Homo sapiens: one gene and its partners. The protein of the gene in region 3 interacts with the protein of the main gene of each other region in a pairwise test. Each region holds a gene or a part of one and is shown on either strand. Other genes may lie near its edges.

The links.
Region 1: the proteins of DES (region 3) and CT55 interact in binary tests that used the Homo sapiens proteins (3 or more experiments, as listed by UniProt).
Region 2: the proteins of DES (region 3) and PPL interact in binary tests that used the Homo sapiens proteins (3 or more experiments, as listed by UniProt).

Annotation. Positions count from the first base shown.
Region 1 is NC_000023.11:135,161,383-135,168,411, forward strand, and holds part of CT55 (cancer/testis antigen 55), read right to left. Parts: intron 1-7,029. UniProt on the Homo sapiens protein: Plays a role in spermatogenesis, possibly acting in the regulation of the autophagy pathway.
Region 2 is NC_000016.10:4,927,133-4,934,161, reverse strand, and holds part of PPL (periplakin), read left to right. Parts: intron 1-7,029. UniProt on the Homo sapiens protein: Component of the cornified envelope of keratinocytes. May link the cornified envelope to desmosomes and intermediate filaments. May act as a localization signal in PKB/AKT-mediated signaling.
Region 3 is NC_000002.12:219,421,374-219,427,260, reverse strand, and holds the end of DES (desmin), read right to left. Parts: coding exon 5,701-5,887; intron 3,485-5,700; coding exon 3,441-3,484; intron 1,599-3,440; coding exon 1,516-1,598; intron 1,313-1,515; coding exon 1,271-1,312; 3' UTR 709-1,270; coding exon of another isoform or gene 682-708; 3' UTR 527-681; downstream 1-526. UniProt on the Homo sapiens protein: Muscle-specific type III intermediate filament essential for proper muscular structure and function.

The DNA of each region.
Region 1 (7,029 bases), on a different chromosome or scaffold from region 3:
GGGACTACATTTTTGGCAGTAACACTCATCCTGATGTTTTTGTCTGTGCACAAATATATATACATGTGTAAATGCCTGTTTTAAAAGCAAATTAGCATGGTATTCAGTGTTAAAGTATCACATTAAATGAACACAAAAGTTTTTAAATAACAAGAGAGGACGGAAAGAGTCATAGGGAATCCCAATTAATGGATGTGCCGTAATTTACTAACCCAATTTCACATAATTAGACATTTCACTTGTGTCATAGCATTTGGACTACTTGCCTGACTTAACTATAGGATAAAATCCTAGGGTTGGCATTTGCTGAGCAGAGACTTCTGATGGAAACTTGAGCCACTGAGTTGTAAAGAATTTTTCATGGTTTTAAAAATAGCCTAGTTTGCTGCTATTCTCATTTCTAAACTGGTGTCTTTCCAGCTGTCAATACCAATCTGATGTTTATTATCCCCTCACTTACTGTCATGAAGGAATGAGGCATTAGCCTCCCATCCACATATCTATCACCACTTCCGTCAGTATCCCAGTGGATGATCCACAGCACCCTCGGACCTCTCTGTTCCTTGACTCCACGCCAACTCACAGACATATGCAGACTAAAGCTTTGCCCATGTCTCATGGCTCCCAGCTCTGTTTCTTATGCCTTGCAAAGACGACCAACACAACAGCCGGTACAAATAGATTCAAATGTTTACGATAATGTGTTGTATGACACAAGTGGCATTTCAATAAAAAGGGGCAATGTGGATTATACAATTAATGTTGAGGGACAACTGAGTAGCCAGTAGTGAAACAAGATGTGGATCCTTCTCTCAGTCCTGCACATGAAAAGCAAACCCAGGCTGGCTGTATGTTTAGATATAAATAAATGAATGACTTTCAGAAGAAAAGCTAAGTGAATACTTGTGTAAATTATGTCTTAGAATTAGCCTAAGGATACTTCCTGAACCCAGAAGCCACATGGACAAGATGGACATATTTATAGTATGTAAAAATTAAGCAGATAGAGGAGGAGGGGAGCAAGATGGAGAAATGGGACTCTCCAGTGATTGTCCTCCTGCAGAAACATCAATGTGAAAAACTATCCTTGTATGAAAATATCGTCACTTGACATAAAGAAACCAGGTGAGAGACCATGGTACCCGGTTATAGCATGAAAATAAGAAAACATGCACTGAAGAGGGTAGTAAGGACAGTTTTACATTACCCACATCACCCCTTCCCCGACCTTCAACAGCAAAGCATAAATAGAGATACCATCCATCCAGAGGAGAGAGACAGTAGCAAGCATAGGACATTGCCTAGGAACCCAATATCAGGCCACCACTTGACAGATGCCCATGGCCCCTGACTCTCAGATGGTACTTGTGGACAGAGTCTCTAGACCCACCCTGGCACCAGACAGGAAGCCACAGCCACAGCAAAACAAACTCAATATCTGGCCCACATCTCTCCCTAGTGATTCCAGTGGCCTTATGCTCAGAATAATCTACAGCAACAGGGAGTTCTCAGTGAATGGAGGCTTGGATTCCAGTCTCACAAGGGACCAGCCTCAATAGCTAGGGGAATCCCAGCCATCCTAGCACCTGCCGCTGTGTCCCTGTGAATAGGCATCCCCCTAGTGCTTCAATAGCTGTAGTGTTCACAAGCATAAGGACCAAAAGAGACCTATATAGAGTTTCTGGACAGGCTTACTGCTAAAGGATGTCCCCTAAAAGCTAGACTGCAAAGACCGAAATGGATACCTACTTCTTCAATACGCAGATATAAACACATTACCACAAAGATCAAACACAATAAGGAAAACATGACATCACCAAACTGACAAAACAAGGTGCCAGCAATTGACCCTAGAGAGACAGGAATATATGAGTTGTTTAACAAATAATTCAAAATATCTATTTTCCACATGCTCTGTGAACCTTGAAAACAATTACAGAGAAATGATTCAGGATTTATCAAAGTAAGTTGCAGGAAAGATTGAAAGAATTGTTAAAAACCAAGCAAATCCAGAAGTTGAAAAATACAGTGAAGGAAGTACACGATAGAGAACATCCAAAGAAGAATTGATTGAGCAAAAGAAAGAATCTGTAAACTTGGAGACAGGTTCATTGAAAATATACAGTCAGAGGAGACAAAATTAAAAGGAAGGACACGGAATGAAAAAAAACTAGATTTCTGGGACAATATCAGAAGAGCAATAGTATGAGTCATTCACATTCAAGAGGGAGGAGTGAAAAAGAGGTAAAAAGATCATTTAAAAAATAATAATGGAGAGCCATCCAAACCCAGAGAAAGTTACAAACGTCTAGGTACTGGAAGACCAAAGTTCTGCATTCAGATACAATCCAAATAAGATTACCCCATGACATATTAAAATCAAACTGTCAAAGATGAAAAATAAAGAAAGAATCCTGAGAGCAGTAAGAGGAAAGAAGCAAATCACATATAAGGCAGTTCCAATATGCCTACCAGAAGACTTCTCAGCAGAAGCATAATAGGCCAGGAGAGAGTAGTATAGTATACTTTAGGAACACAAGGAAAAAAATCTCTAAGCAAGAATAATGTACCCAGCAGTGAAGGGGAGATAAAGACTTTTACAGAGAAATCACAGCTGAGAAATTTCCTCACCACCGCAACTGTCTTACAAGAAATGCTAGGGAGAGTTCTTCCAACTGACGTAAGGGACGCTAATGAGTAATGCAAAAACATCTGAAGGTATAAAACTCACCAGTAAAGGTAACGACACAAATTCAGAATACTCTAATAAGGTAATGGTGGTTTCCAGATCACTTATATCTTTCATGTAAAGGTTAAAGAACTGAACTAGTAAAAATAAAATAAGTACAATAATTTGTTAAGGGATACAAAATATAAAAAATTGTAAAGTGTGAAATAGAAAACTCAAAATCCCAGGGTGGAGTTAAATAGTAAAGTGTTTGTATTTTGTGATCAAAGTTATGTTATCAGTAAAATAATCTGCCGTGATTATGTTTCCGTAAGCCTCATGCTATCCACAAAGAAAAACATCCTGTAATAGACACACTAAAACAAATACAAACAAAACCACAAAACACACTAATAGAGAAAAATCTCTTATCCATCAATGAAAACAGTAAAAGAGAAAGAAAGGAAGAAATTACCTACAAAATAGATAGAAAAAAATTATCTAAATGACAACAATAAATCCTTACCTATCAATAATTACCTTGATAGGAATGGATGACATCCCCCAATTAAAATGCACAGAGTAGCTGAATACATTTAAAAAGCAACAACAAAAACAATCAAACCTATGAGAGACCCACTTCTCCTTAAAGGGCATTCGTAAACTGAAAGTGAAGACATGAAAAAAGATATTCTTCCATGTAAAGGGAAACCAAAAGAGAGCAGGAGCTGCTAAACTGATTTCAAATAAAATAGAGTTTAAATCACAAACTGTAAAAAGAGACCAAGATCATTATAGAATGATGAAGGGGTCAATTCATCAAGAGGATATAATGATTTCCAAAAATATGCACCCAACATAGCAGCACCTAAATATATGAAGCAGACATTAAGGTATAAATGGTGAGATAGAGTGCAATGCAGTAATAGTAGGGGACTTCAACACCCAACTTGCAGCAATGAACAGATTGTCCCGACAGAACATTGACCCCACAAAAAGTGGGATTTATCTGCACTCCGGACCAAATGGACCTGACAGTCATTTACAGAACATTCCATCCAAATACTCCAAAACACATATTCTTTCCAACTGCATGTGGAACATTCTCGAGGATAGATTATGGGGCAGGTCATAAAACAGGTACTAGCAAATTAAGGGAATTTGAAATAACATCAAATCAGTTCTCTAACCACAACGGTAAAGTATTAGAAATCAATAAAAGTAGGAACTTTGGAAACTTTAGAAGTGGATGGAAATTAAACAACATGCTCCTAAATAACCAATGGGTCAATGAAGAAATTAGAAGCAAAGTGTAAACATTTCTTGAGTTGAAGCAAAATGAAGGCACAACATACGAAAACCCATGAAATACAGCAAAAGCAATTCTAAAAGTGAAGTTTACATCAATAAAACCTACCTCAAAAGAAAAGATACATCTTAAATAAACAACCTCACACTGCACCTTGGGGAACTAGAAAAACAAGAAAAAAATGCAATGCAAAATTAGGACAGAAATCATAAAGGTCAGAGCAGAAATAAATGAATAGAAATGAGAAGAACAATACAAATATCAATGAAACAATGACTTGGTTTCTTGAAGAGGTAAAGCAAATCAACAAAACTTTAGCTAGACTAAGGAAAAAAGAGAGAAGATTCAAATAACTAAAATCAAAGATGAAAAAGGACACAGCACAAATGACATCACCAAAACAAAACGTATCATAAGGAAGATTATGAACAATCATCTGCCTACAAATAGGACAAGCTAGAAGAAATGGCTACATTCCTGGACACATACAACCTACCGAGATGTAATGGTGAAGAAATGGAAAATCTGAACAGACCATTAATGAGTAAGGAAAGTGATTCAGTAATAAAAAATCCCCCATCAGTGAAGAGTCCAAGACAGAATGACTTCCCTTCCTAATACTACCAAATTTATATATAAAGAAGAATAATTAATAGCTATACTTTTAAACCTATTCCAAAAAAAAAAAAAAAAAAAAAAAAAAAACGGACAAGAGACGAACACTTCCGAACTCATTCTGTCACAACGCATTACCCTGGTAGAAAACCCAGATGAGGAAACAGAAAGAAGAGAAAACCAAAAAAAACTACATGCCAAAATTCCTGATCAACACAGTTGCAAAATCTTTAACAAAGTATTAGTAAAGCAATTTCCACAGCACATTAAAAAAATCATTCACCATGTTCTAGAGGACTTCATCCCTGGGATGCAGGGAAGTTTCAACATACACAAATCAATAAATGTGCTATATCACGTGAAAAGAATGAAGGAAAAAAGCCATAGGTTCATTCCAATTTCAGCAGGAAAAGCATTTGATTGAATTCCACACCTCTTCGTGACTAAAAACTCCACAAATTAGGTATAAGAGGAGTGCACCTCAACACAATAAAGGTCATATATGATAAACCCACAGATAACATCATACTGAATGGGGAAGTGTTGCAGGCTTTTCCTCTAAGACCTGGAACAGGACAGAAATGCCCACTTTTGCCCTTTCTATCGCACATAGTTCTGGAAGTGCTAACCAGAGAAATTAGGCAAGAAGAAACAAAAGGCATCTAAATTCAAAAGGAAGAATTTAGATTGGCCCTGTTTGCAGACGGGAAGCTGTTACTTATAAATAACCCTGAAGACACCACCAAACAGCTACTAGGTCTAATAAACAAATTCAGGAAAGTGGCATGAGACACAACCAACATACAAGAATCAGTAGTATCTCTATACACCAATAGGGAACTATCTGGAAAAGATATCAAGAAACAATCCCATTTACAACACCTTCAAAAAAATTAAAATAGGAATAAATTTAACCAAGGAGGTGAAGGATTGCAACACTGAAAACTATAAACCATTGACGAAGCAAATTGAAGGAGGCAGGAATGAATGGAAATATATCATGTGTTCATGAACAGGAAGAATAAAATATTGTTAAAATGTCCGTAACCTAAAGCAATCTATAGATTCAATGCAACTGCTATGAAAATACCAATGACATTCTTCTTGGAAATAGAAGAAATACTCCTAAAATTTGTATGGAACCATGAAAGATTCCAGACAGCTGAAGCAGTCTGGAATACAAGGAACAAAGCTGGAGGCATCACACTATGATGTCAAAACATATGACAAAGCTATAGTAAGCATAACAGCACAGTACCAGTATAAAAACGGACACATCAACCAATGGAGCAGAATACAGAGCCCGGAATTAAATCTGTGCATTTACAGTCAACTAATTTTTGACAAAAGGCCCGAGAACACACAATGTTGAGAAAGTACAGTCTCTTCAATAAATGATGTTGAAAATAACTGGATATTCATCTGAGAAAAATGAATTTCCACCCTTATCTCTCAGCGTGTATATAAATCAACTCAAAATGATTTAAAGCTTTAAAATGAAGACCCAAAGCTGTGAAACTACTAGAAGGAGACATAGGGGGAAAGCTCCATGACATTGTTCTGGGCAACGATATTTTAAAAACAGGACCTCAAAAGCAAAGGCAAGAAAAGGAAAAATACACAAATGGGATTACATTGAACTAAAAAGCTTCTGCACCACAGAGGAAACAATCAAAGAGTGGAGAGACAATCTATGCGATAGGAGAAAACATTGACAATCTATGTATCTAGTAAGGGGTCAGTTTCCAAAATGTAACTCCAACAACACAATAGCAAGAAAACAAATAATCCTATTAAAAATGAGCAAAAGACCTGAATAGACATTTCTCAAAAGGAGACATACAAATGGCTAACAGGCATGTGAAAAAACACTCACCTTCTCTAATCATCAGGGTAATGCATATCGGAACCACAGAGATACCGAGTCACGCATGTTAGAATGGCTAACATTAAAAAGACAAGATATAACAAGTGTTGGCAAGGATGTGGAGAAATTGGAAGCTTTATGCACGGTTGGTGGGATGTAAATTGTTACAGCCACCATGGAAAACAGTATGGACATTCCCCAATATTTTAACAATGGAACTATCACACTATCCATGAATCCCACTACTGAGCATGTATCCAAAGAGAGTGTCATCAGTGTGTCAAAGAGATGTCAGCACTTCCATGTTTGTTGCAGCCCTATTCACAATAGCTATGAAATGAAAGCAATCTAAGTGTCCATCTACGGATGAGTGTATAAAGGAAATGTGGTATAAATACACAAGGGAATGCTATTCAGCCATAAAACAGAACAGAATATTGCCGTTTGAAATAACCTGGATGAACCTGGAGAATGATATGTAAGTGAGATAAGCCAGTCACACAAAGACAAATACTGCACGGTCACATTCACATGCAGAAGATAAAAAAGTTGATCTCATAGCAGTGTAGA
Region 2 (7,029 bases), on a different chromosome or scaffold from region 3:
CAGAGTCAGGCCAGATGGTGCAGGTGACCGAGGACAGCCTCCAGCCTAGTAGAGAGGCCCTGGAGGAGACCCGCTGCCACCCTCCTGGCTGTGCGACCTCAGAGGAGCTGCTTGGCTTCTCTGAGCCTGTTTTCTCACCTGTGGGATGGGAATAAGCACGGTGCCTGCCTGGCGATGTTGGCTCAGGATTAAATGAAATAATGCAGGGGAAAGGTTGTGAATGATAAGCGGCCGCAGGTAATAGCATCTGTGACGATTACAGTTATTAAGCAAATGCGGGCAAGCTAGCTGTGGTGTACCCAGGGTTAAACTTGATATCATGGTGGACAGGCTGTGCACTGCACAATTCCATAGGCACTGTTGCTGGGTTTTAGCACGTGGTCGTGGAGGAGACGTGGACAACCTCCCTGCACTTGAGTCGCTGGCAGTCACATCACAGAGATAAGATGGAGTTAAGCTTCAGTACATGTATGGTTACATGAGCGTCGGACTGATGGGGCCAGGCAGGAGCAATGGAGCATAGAGCCGGACAGATGAGGTCTCCACCCTGGCCACTCACATACTTTGTGACAGGCCTCAAGTGAGAGTTGTCACAGTCAGAGCACAGATGCTGGGAGGTGAGGGAGGACTTCACAGAGGAGGCATCTGACCTGTCACGGGGTGGGATGGAGTGGCCAAGACCCAGCTCTGCAGTCAGGCTCAATTCTGCCTCTGCTTGAAAAGAAACATAGCATCCCTGAGCCCCAGCGCTTCTGAATTTGTTGAATGGGATTAATCTTGCCCCTCCACCCAGACCTGGGTCCCAGTAAACACCCAGCAGCCTGGCCTTGCCTAGACGGGTCTTGCAACACTGGGGCCGCCCTGATGGAGCGCTCCTGCATGGGAGGCAGGACCCCAGGCTTTGAGGGGAGAGCTGGCAAAAGGGAAGCATGCTCTACTGGGAGGCACCTGGGGTACCCTGAGCCTCTTAGTGGTTAAGAACACAGTGTTTTATTAGCTGGGCATGGGGGTGGGTGCCTGTAGTCCCAGCTACTCAGGAGGCTGAAGCAGGAGAATCCCTTGAACCTGGGAGGCAGAGGTTGCAGTGAGCTGAGATTGTGCTACTGCACTCCAGCCTGGGTAAAAGAGTGAGACTCTGTCTCAAAAAGAAAAAAAAAAAAGCAAGAACACAGTGTTTGATGCTAGCTGGGCATGAGTTCAGGCCGCAGCTCTGGGTCTCTTAAGCTGTTTGATCTTGGGCAAGTCACTTAATGTCTCCGAGCCTCAGTTTCTTCATCTATGAGGTGGGGTGACAACAGCAACCCCCAGTTGGTGAGGCTGCTGGGTAGATCAAATGAGGGGATGCACATGATGGGTCCAGCCCATGACCTGGTTCAGAGCGAGTGCCCGGCAAATCATAGCAGCCAATACTAGGAAGCACACACTGCTATTAAGAGTCATGACGGGCTGGGCGCGGTAGCTCACGCCTGTAATCCCAGCACTCTGAGAGGGTAAGGCGGACGGATCACTTGAGGTCAGGAGTTCAAGACCAGCCTGGCCAACATGGTGAAATCCCATCTCTACAAAAATAAATATTAAAAATTAGCTGGGTGTGGTGGCGGAAACCTGTAATCCCAGCCAGATACTGGGGAGGCTGAGGCAGGAGAATCACTTGAACCTGGGAGGCAGAGATTGCAGTGAGCCGAGATCACACCACTGCACTCCAGCCTGGGAGACAGAGCGAGACTCCGTCTCAAAAAAAAAAAAAAAAGATTCATGACTGAGCCAAGCCCAGAGCTGACCAGGGAGCTGACTCAAGCAGACACGCACATGCACCCATCGATCAGTGTTGGTAGGAACGCCTGATCGATATGGGAGGGGACCCATGTGGGTAACAGCTTAGAGAGAGCCGCCCCGCCATTTCTCAGGCACATACTGTGAGCCCAGCAAGGCCATGGATGTTACATCTCATTCTGACAGCGGGCCTGCCATGCAGGTGGAAGTGTCCTGTTTCACAGAGGGCTCACATTCACCTTGAGCTCACAGCTCACAAATGGCTGATGCTGGAAGTCCAGGGGGGCCTGGGGAAGCAAATGAGGCCTCCCCACTCGTACCTGGATCTGGCAGCAACTGTGCCTGGGGACTGCTCCAGGCCAAATGGTAGAGTCATTGGTGTTTGTGCTCACTGCCTCTACCCCCAGCAACCCCCTCTACCTCTCTTCTCTCTAGCTTTGCCCCTCCATCCCTTGCCCAGTTCTCTTGGAAGAAGGAATGAGACTGGATAAATTCGATTCAGGACAGAGCTGAGCTTACCTGGAGGAACAGCTGCTAATGGTAGCATTTCAGGCACTGTCGGGCGGATCATGTTGGGAAAGGGTATTTTGGGGGAGAGACTCAGCTCCGTCCACACCCTTTAAGCAATACCCTAAGGGTGTGGTTGGGGGAGGCCCTGGAAGTAGGGGACCTGGGGGAGAAGCTGCTTTAGAGAGCTTCCAAAGCTCCTCGTCTGGGGAAGAGAACCCTGGCTTCCCAGCGTGCAGCTGCTCTCTGCTCCCGGCAGGTCTGTGCCGGTGTTACCGGCACCACCTTGCATCCTCCCAGCCTGCCTGCCCCGGCCTGTCTTGGGAGCGAATGGGGAAACGGCCTCTGGTCTTTGTTCTCCCGGCTTCTGATGGGTTGCTGTGCTGCAGCCTCTGGAGCCCGGGAGGCCACCTGGTGCCCCTTTCTGCCTCCGGGTGGGACAAAGCTCTCTTCAGGTCCCAGCCCTGCCCTTCCCTACCCCAACCTATTTTTTTTAAGTGTTCTTTCTTTATTCTTTAGAGACAGGCTGTCACTGTATCACCCAGATTGGAGTGCAGTGGTGCGATCATAGCTCACTGTAGCCTTGAACTGCTGGGCTCAAGCAATCCTCATGCCTCAGCCTCCCAAGAAGCTGGGACTACAGGTGTGCACACCACCGTGCCCCGCTAATTTTTAATATTTGTAGAGATGGGGTCTCACTATATTGCCCACTCTGGTCCTGAACTCCTGGGCTCAAGTGAGCCTCTTGCCTTAGCCTCCCAAAGCACTGAGATTACAGCCATGAGCCACTGCACGCAGGCCCTTTCCCTTTAAATGGATCCCCACTTCTCCCTGCCTGCAGAGCCAGCAGCCCAGCAGGCCTCCAGTCCCTCTTCACTGTTCCTTCTTCCACTCCAGCGCTCCAGTCCCTTCTCCCCATGGCAGCCAGGGAGCTCCTTACGACATAAATCTGACCATACCTCCAGCTGCTTAACCCCTGCCCCAGACCTCTCTTTGCTCTTAGGCCCTGGGAGCTGGTGCCCTGCACATCAACATGTGCCTGTCACCGTCTTGTTTCCACGCTGTGCCCGGCCACAAGGCCTTTCCCTCTGCCATTCCTGTTGCCCAGAATGCCCCTCCCACCCCTTTTCACTGCTTCTCTTCCACTTCCAGGTTTACCTTCTGTTCCTCAGGGAAGCCTTCCCCAACCTCTCTGCTGGGGTAGATCCACCTATTCTATGGACTCCCCTTCTCCTTGGTAGCTCTTATCTCAGCAGCTATGTGACTCCGGGGTAGCCACATGTGGCTGTGTGGCTGCCTTCCCCCAGACACTGGTGCTACACGCGTGCTGAATGAATGAATGAATGAGAGTAAGCCATGGGGGACTGCTAAGATTCTCCCCTTCCCTCAGCATTTCAAGAGAGCATACATTGCCCTGCGCTTCACACCCCAGGACCAGCAGAGCCCGGAGGTGGGGATGAATGGGGCAGGGGTTCCAGCTAGTGGAAAGGAGTGCGAGGCCTGAGCAGGCTGCCCCCTGCCCTGTCCCCATCCAGTCACCTCCTGCGTGCAGGACGGTGAGCAGAGAGTTGGCTGAGTACACAGCTGGCAGCAATGCGGAGTGATAGTGAGATAAAGGAGGGCCCTGACCCAGCCACACAGGCTTCTTCAGGAGAGGTCCTCCACGCCGAACCCGGGGATCAGTTGGAGATGAGAGGATAAAGAGAGTGCAGTTGACAGAAGGTGACGGGGATGTGTGTATCCACGACCCGAAAAGGCATGACAGTGAGCAAGCAAAGCAAGTTGATGAAGGATGCAAAGATGATGCTTGCATATATACATTTTTAGAAACATACACAGAGCAATTCCACTTACTCTTCCTGAATGCAGATGTGTCTATGTATTGGAAAGCTTAGGGAACCAGGTGCAGTGGTTCGCACTTGTCCTAGCGCTTTGGGAGGCCAAGGCGGGAGGATGACTTGAGGCCAGGAGTTGAAGACGAGCCTGGGCAACATAGTGAGACCCTATTTCTACCAAAAAAAAAAAAAAATTAGCTGGGCATGGTGGTGCATGCCTCTAGTCTTAGCTACTCAGGAGGCTGAGAGGGGAGGATCCCTGAGTCCAGGAATTCAAGGCTGCAGTGAGCTGTGATTGTGCCACTGCACTCCAGCCTGGGCAACAGAGCAAGACCCTGTCTCTAAATAAATAAAATAAAACAGGCTTAGGAAGAACCAGTAAATCTAAAATTCTGCTACTCCTAAGAAGGGGCCTGAAAGGATAATGAACAATAACATTTCTCTTCCTTTTTAGAAAAATCTGCAGCAAAGATGGTACTGTGAAAACATCAACCAAACCGTGGTGGTGGGGACATGCGTGGCTGATTCTTTTCAGTACTTTTCTGCATGTCTGAGTAGATCACGAGTTTTCCAGTTTAGGTGAAGGGTGGAGTAGAGAAGGCGAGCTGGCGTGGGGCACAGCTGGCGGGGGGCACAGCGTGGGAAGAGCCTGCAGGCAAGCCCTGAGTCCTGGGTCTCAGAGTCCAGTCCATAGCAAAATAAAAGGTCTGGGAGAGGAAGAAGAGGGACCTCAGGAAGCAAAGGGGGCCCAGTCCTGGAAGGCAAGCAGGCAGGTTCTGGATGGGGAGACAAAAATGGAGAGTCTCTGCAAGGAAGTGAGAGGGGAGGGGACCAGAACTGGGAAAGGTATGAACACAGAAAGGCCTTGAGGTTGGGTGCTAGCTTAAAACCATCACCCTAAATTATGATTATTACATTGTCTGAGATAAATTCTACCCTCAGCTCTCGTTCCAAGTGAGGCTCAGAGAGTTTGAGTGACTCGCTCCAGGACTCTCGGCAGATCTTTTTTTTTTTTTTTTTTTTTTTTTTTTTTAAGGTAGAGTTTCACTTTTGTTGCCCAGGCTGGAGTGAAGTGACACAATCTCAGCTCACTGCAACCTCTCTGCCTCCTGGGTTCAAGTGATTCTCCTGCCTCAGCCTCCCAAGTAGCTGGGATTACAGGCGCCCACCACCACGCCTGGCTATATTTTGTATTTTTAGTAGAGACGGGGTTTCACCATGTTGGCCAGGCTGGTCGCAAACACCTGACCTCAGGTGATCCACCTGCCTCGGCTTCCTAAAGTGCTGGGATTACAGGCATGAGCCACTGCTCCCAGCCAAATAGAGTTTCTTATCTGAGATTGAAGCAGGGTTGAAGCCCTGTCTCTTCTTTGTGGTACAAACTTGGAATCCTTTCCCACCCTTCGATGGGAAACAAACCATCGCCATGGCGAAGGCAGAGAATTTGAAACCCTAAAAGGTATCAGCCTGAAATCCTAGCCCAGGCAGTGGGGGCAGCAAAAAATTCTGCAAGTTCTATTTCTCCCACAGCCCTGCGGCCTTGCAGGCTCAGCCAGCAGCTCTGGTGTGTTTTATCTTACAAAGCATGACAAAAACCCTCTGCCTAGGAAAGGATGGGCGGGGCGGCCAGGACACCCTGCCAGCCCTCTCAAAGTGTCTGGGTAAGAACTGCTGAGATGGCCGGGCACAGTGGCCCATGCCTGTAATCCCAACACTCTGGGAGGCCTAAGGTCAGGTGTTGGAGACCAGCCTGGCCAACATGGTGAAACCCTGTCCCTACTAAAAATACAAAATATATTTTGTGTTTGAGCCCAAGAGTTGAAGGCTGCAGTGAGTGAAGTGCAGCAATGCACTTCAGCCTGAATAACAGAGCAAGACTCTGTCTCAAAAAATGAAAAAGGAGGCTGGTGCTCTTTCTCCAGTGGTCCTGAACCCAGAGTGACATCCTGATGCCTTGGGGCACCAAAGTTGGCTTGAGCCCTGTTTATCCCCCGAGTCTAGGAATTCAAAGCTGCAGTGAGCTATGAATCCTCCCACCTCAGCCTCCTGAGCAGCCAGGACTAGAGGCATGCACAACCATGCCCAGCTAATTTTATTTATTTATTTATTTTTGGTAGAAATAGGGTCTTGCTGTGTTGCCCTGTCTTCAAGACCTGCCTTGGTGTTACCTGAAGCAGCTTGAACTTCTGTATGTTTGTAAAAGGAGCCCAAAAGCACTCACCTGACACAGAACCCTAGGCCCCATCAGAGGCCTGGAGGCAGGGCGGCCTTCCCTGGGCAGAAACAGATTAGGCCTTAAAAACAGACCTGGAATTACTACACCAGCAACCTTCTCATCTTAGGATATATTTCCACAGGATTAATAGCTGGGTGTGAGGACATTTACTGTCTAATTAGCACAGGAGTTTCTAGTAGTGAGAGAATCAGTCAATTGACCAATCAATCTGGTATTCATTGGGCACATTCTGTGTACTGCTTTCTCACAGGGCTTCCTTCCTATAGAGATCTAGGATTCTTCGGCATCTTGCTTCTTTTAAACCTTGCTGTGGTTCAGTTCCTTGTTCTCATCCCTGGCTGTACATTAGAATCACCTGAGGAGTTTTGAACAGCATGTCAGAGCCCTTTCCAAGACCAGTTAAGTCAAAATCTCCATGGACATGGGTCCAGACATCATTCTTTTGATGTGCAGCTGTTGGGAACCACATAGTTACATGGATTGCCTCGCTCCCTCTTGTCTTTGAGATATATGGACAGTGCTTTCTCTCTTCAGTATCAGTTGCCTGGTATGTCACTCTCCATTCTTTATTCTCAACCTTCCTGTATCATTTAGTTTCAAGTGTGTGTGTCTTATAAAATGGCATATAGCTTGGGGAAGGTGTGTGTTTTGTAATCTCACCGGAGAGTCTTTTATCTT
Region 3 (5,887 bases):
GAGGATCGCTTGAGCTCAGGAAGTCCAGGCTGCAGTAAGCCGTGATCACACTGCTGCACTCCAGCCTGGGTGACACAGCAAGACTCCATCTCAAAAAGAAAAAAAGAGAGAGAGAAAAAAAAGGGGCTGTTGGCATCTTTGAAGAAGGGACTGGGGGAGCCCTACTTCAGAGCCAGTCAGTGGGGAGCAGCTACATCCTTCAAAAGGAATAGCAGGTGGTGTCCCCCAGCCTGGCTGACCTGAAGGTGTAGTAGAGAGCACAAGGGGTGCAGTCCTGGAACTGGGGCCTAACGAGAGGTATTTGTGGTTCCCCAACAAAAGCCCTGTCCAGCCCTCCCTGCCCCATACACTGCATACAGACATCAAGGCCAGGTGGCTCTGGGAACAGAAGTGGGCGCGAGGCCCTGGGGAAAGTCTGGCTGGGTAGAAGGTCAGTATAGTCCATCTCAGGGTGACAGGTTGTATCACAGGGCCCCAGGGGCCCCACAGGAGACCTGGCAGTCAAGACAACAGGGGCCAGCTTGGCTTGTGTGTGAATCTCTTTATTGTTTCTCTCCAGAGCCCCTGCAGCAGGGGAGGGGAGGGCGTGGGGAGGTGGGCGCCCCTCCCACCAGCCTGAGACCGCTCTCTGCCTCTCTCCTCTCCTCTCTTCTCCAGCATCTCACCCACTTTCTCTCCTTCTCAATCTCCTGCTCCCACCTCCAGCACCTTCGGGGATTCCCTCTTGTAGCCCCTGCTTTCTAAGTCCACCCTGGGCTGGGGAAAGGAAAGTAAGAGACCACGGGGACAATTTCAAGCCCCCCAGTCTCCACAGGGGCTAGTCCCCCTGGCTACCTGCCTGGCTTTCTCTCTCCTGGGCTAGGGGCTGGGGAGGTCTGCGGGGCTCAGTCCTGGCCCTGCAGTATCCCAACACCCTGCTCTGGGGCTGTCTCCAGAGCCAAAGGCTAGTGCCTGAGGTCACAGAGGTGGGAGGGACAGGGCCACCGCTCCCGCCTGGGCTCCATCCAGCACAAGAGCCAGGCTCACTCACTGCCAACAGCCAAGGCTCACAGCTGGGGTCCGCAGAGGTGGCCGGGGCATGCCCTGTGACCAGGCAGGGATGGGCTATGTCGCTGTTGGGGACCACGAGGGATGGCCAGTGAGGAGGGGTCAGAGGCTGTGAGGGGAGGACTGAGGCTGGGTGTGGTGTCCTGGGATGGAAGAAGGCTGGCTTCAGGGAGCAGTGAGGACAGGGGTGAGGACGGTCTCTGGTGGCAGAGGGTCTCTGTCTTTAGAGCACTTCATGCTGCTGCTGTGTGGCCTCACTGACGACCTGGGGAGGAAGAGAAGCCCAGTCCAACCATGTGCTAGCCAGAGAATGGAGCCTCAGCCCTGAGCCATCCCCACCCCAGGGCCGCAGGATCTCTCTTGCCCCACTAGCCAGGGACCTAGACCAGCACAGCTGGGTGGAAGACAGTCCCCCCAGACACATCCATAGCCCCCACCAAGGGTAAGGAGCCCAGACAGACCACTTACCTCCCCATCCCGTGTCTCGATGGTCTTGATCATCACCGTCTTCTTGGTATGGACCTCAGAACCCCTTTGCTCAGGGCTGGTTTCTGTAACAGGGTCCATCGCACACTCAGCCTGACCAAGTCCAGGCTGGGCTATACCAGGGGCTGGGAGTCCATCTGGGGCCACATTGGGCAGAGCCCTAGCAGACCCCAACCCCCCTCAAGACAGGCTTGTTACTTCTTCAAGACTTTAACACCTTTCCTTCAGCCCAGCACCCAGCAGGTGGTTCTGCAGTCCCCAGCGCCTGTCCCATAGTTTAGATGGTCTCAGGAGCCAACAGATTTGCTCCATGTGCAGGATGGTGCAGGAGGGTAGGGGACACCTGAGGCCCAGGCTGCACAGCACTGACATTCCCCATCCCTCCTAGTTCCTCTCCACCCCCAGGCCCCAGGAGAGCCCTGCACACATTTGTCTCCTGGGACTCCCCTTCTTCAAGATAGAACCCCAAAGCCCAGTCTCAAGACACTCTTTAGAGGACCTTACAGTACCTATCTCCCTTTAAGATTTCAGGGCCAGGTGCGGTGGCTCACATCTGTAATCCCAGTAGTTTGGGAGACCGAGGCAGGTGGATCATGAGGCCAGGAGTTCCAGACCACCCTGACCAACATGGTGAAACCCCGTCTCTACTAAAAATACAAAAATTAGGGGGGCGTGGTGGCACATGCCTGTAATCCCAGCTACTCAGGAGGCTGAGGCAGGAGAATTGCTTGAACCTGGGAGGCGGAGGTTGCGGTGAGCCGAGATTGCACCACTGCACTCCAGCCTGGGCGACAGAGCGAGACTCCGTTTCAAAAGAAAAAAAAAATTCAGATGAGCAACTTGATGTCTTAAAGTGAGACAGAGCAGGAATAAGGCACTGACTCATTGTGCTGATGCTCAGTCACTTGCCATTCTGTGCCTCAGTTTCCTCACTGAGGACACGGAGTGAAGTGGTACCAACCTTATCATGGCCACAAAGCTATTGATTTGGAAAAGCACTGTGCAATGTGGGTGGAGTTTTTTGTACTATGAAGTTTTAAATGCAAGACTCATACTTGGTGTCTGTATAAACAACTAACTGAAAAGAGAGGCTCTGAGTTGTGTAGGAAAGGTCAAATGGAGGTCCTTGGTATTATGAGTTTGGTGCTTACGAATTTCCTTAGCTAGCAACCAGCCTGTGATGAATGTTGTGACTCGCTGGAGCGCAGCGTGTTTTTTTTCCTGATGGAAATGTACATCGAAGATAGAAAAGGTTTGATCTAGGAAAGGAGAAGCTGCCAAGGACTCCGACTTGCTTTCCTAATGCATCATTATCGTGTGTTTCTCTGCTCTCTGGGGTTGGAAAGCCACCCGATCTGCGTATTACTAATGTCAAAATGGCAGAGTGCCCTAAGAGCTCGTTCTTTTCATTGTTTGGCTTTGCTAAGATTTGGCATTTTTTTCCAAACGTGCATCCAACATCTTGCTCCAGCAAACTGGAGGTGTTCGACAAGCAGCCAAGGTGGGGCTTGGCAATGTGCCAAACAGACAATGGGCTGTGGGTGTCTTAGAGGGCAGGTGGTATGAGATGCTCCTGAAGCCAGGTCCCCAAGGACACTCCTGCTTTCAGAGTTTGGGATTCAGAACAGAGGCTGCTTCCTGAGGCCCAATACTCCAAGAAGGTGCAGGGGACATGGTAAATACAATACAATATAATCACATAAAAAGCTCTCTCTGTCATAAGTTGCCTCATCCACCTCTACCTAAACTCCCCCACCTACCCGCAGTGGTCCCCTTTTTCTTCCCCAGACTCCAGGTCTGTCCCTAGCCCCAGGGTCCCATCCTCCCTCCTGGCTGGCCTTGGGCAGTGCCCATGCTGGACTCCTGGCCCCTGCAACTCCAGCCTCCGCCTGCCAGCAGACACTCACCTCGGAAGTTGAGGGCAGAGTAGGTCTGGATGGGGAGATTGATCCTAAAAGGGAAGAGACAAAACCTCCTAAGAGTTAAGAACCCTCCCATCGGCCGGGCCCAGCTGTAATCCCAGCACTTTGAAAGGCCGAGGCGGGCGGATCACCAGGTCAGGAGATCGAGACCATCCTGGCTAACACAGTGAAACCCCGTCTCTACTAAAAATACAAAAAATTAGCCGGGCATGGTGGCGGGCACCTGTAGTTCCAGATACTCAGGAGGGTGAGGCAGGAGAATGGTGCGAACCCAGGAGGTGGAGCTTGCAGTGAGCGGAGATTGCACCACTGCACTCCAGCCTGGGGGACAGAACAAGACCCTGTCTCAAAAAAAAAAAAAAAAGAACCCTCCCATCTTTCCCTGAGACCGCCCATCAAGGCTCACCCTGGTCCTTTCTAAACACCATCCTCAGCTGTCCCAGTCCCACGGACCCCAGCACTCCCACCACCCATACTGCTCAAGGAATGGGGTCGAAGGCCAGCTAGAGCTGTCCCAGGAATAGTCTCTTCTGGAAGGATCATTATTTCAACTGTGAACTGCTGGCACGACACTAGGATGTGCAACCCCACCGCGCCCTCCAGAGCACCAGGATTTCCTTCTTGCTCCTGGCACTGAAGTTGGTACTAGTAGCAGCTGTGGGTGATATCCATTGCTCATGCCCACCCTCCAGCCAGGCCAGTTCTGAGAGCTTACTATTTAGGCCTAATGCTGGGAAAATGCAACATGCCTTTAGCTACCTTCAAAGGCCATCATATGTAGACGTGATTTTACAAAATCTGAAGTTTCTCTTTATGTTTGTACCTGTATCTAAACATGTCTGCTCCTTTTTAAAAATTTCAGATATTATTTTTATGAGTATCAAGGGGTACCAGTTTTTGGAGTAACTGATCTGTTTTAAATTGAGGTTAAATTTACATACAGTGAAATGCACAGATCTTTAATGTACAATTCAATGAGTTTTGATCAATGTCCACGTCTGTGTAACTACCAGTCCAAATCAAGATATAGAACATTTCTAGGCCAGGCACAGTGGCTCATGCCTATAATCCCAGCACTTTGGGAGGCTGAGGCAGGCGAATTACTTGAGGTCAGGAGTTAGAGTCCAGCCTGACCAACATGGTGAAACCTCATCTCTACTAAAAATACAAAAAATCAGCTGAGTGTGTTGGCACACGCCTGTAATCCCAGCTACTAGGGAGGCTGAGACAGGAGAACCGCTTGAGCCTGGGAGGCAGAGGTTGCAGTGAGCTGAGATCACACCACTGCACTCCAGCCTGGGTGACAGAGCAAGACTCTGTCTCAAAAAAAAAAAAAAAAAAAGATATAGAACATTTCTGTTATCCCACAAGGTTCCCTGGTGTCCCTTTCCAGTTGTATGTTGTTTTCTGTGTCTAGAGGTGGGTTGCTCTGAGCATGACGTCTGTGTCTTTTCCTCCGAACATGTGCATATGCTGACATGTGTGCATGTGTGTGCAAACTCATGCCTTCTGTATGCATCTCTTTACCTTCTCTTAGCCTATCCCTGTGCAAGGCTTCTCTCCCTCCCTCTCTCTATTTGCCTCTATCTGCTCCCTCCGTTTCCCTCCTCATCACTCCCCATTCTGCTTTCATCTCTCCCTTGACTGGCAGTAATATTTTATTATTGGTTGCTGAATATGGTTTTTTTTGCTGCTGGTTCTTAATTCTGAAGGTGGATAAGGGAATACTTATATTTCTCTTTTTATAAATGCTGTTAATTAAATTGCTTTTTACCCAGGTGGCCTTGGTTAATTCTCTGCAATTAATAGAGCAGTGGCCTCTTGTATAAAATTGTTTCCACGCCGGGTGCGGTGGCTCACGCCTGTAATCCCAGTACTTTGGGAGGCTGAGGTAGGCAGATCACCTGAGGTCAGGAGTTCGAGACCAGCTGCCCAACATAGTGAAACCCCGTCTCTACTAAAAATACAAAAATTAGCCAGGCGTGGTGGTAGGCGCCTGTAATCCCAGCTGCTCGGGAAGCTGAGGCAGGAGAATTGCTTGAACCCAGGAGGCGGAGGTTGCAGTGAGCCAAGATGGTGCCATTGCACTCCAGACTGGGCGACAAGAGCGAAACTCCATCTCAAAAAAAAAAAAAATTGTTTCCAGGTCTTGTTGAGGTAATCAGTAATCTCGAGCCTCCTGGGGACAGAAATGGACCACCCAGCACCCCGCACCTCCCACTCGGGCTCCTGCCTGGCCCCTCACCGGCTCTCCTCTCCCTCCAGCAGCTTCCGGTAGGTGGCAATCTCCACATCCAGGGCCATCTTCACGTTGAGCAGGTCCTGGTACTCGCGCAGATGGCGGGCCATCTCATCCTTGAGGTGCCGGATTTCCTCCTCCAGGCGCGCAATGTTGTCCTGGTAGCCACTGGCCTCACTGGCAAATCGGTCCT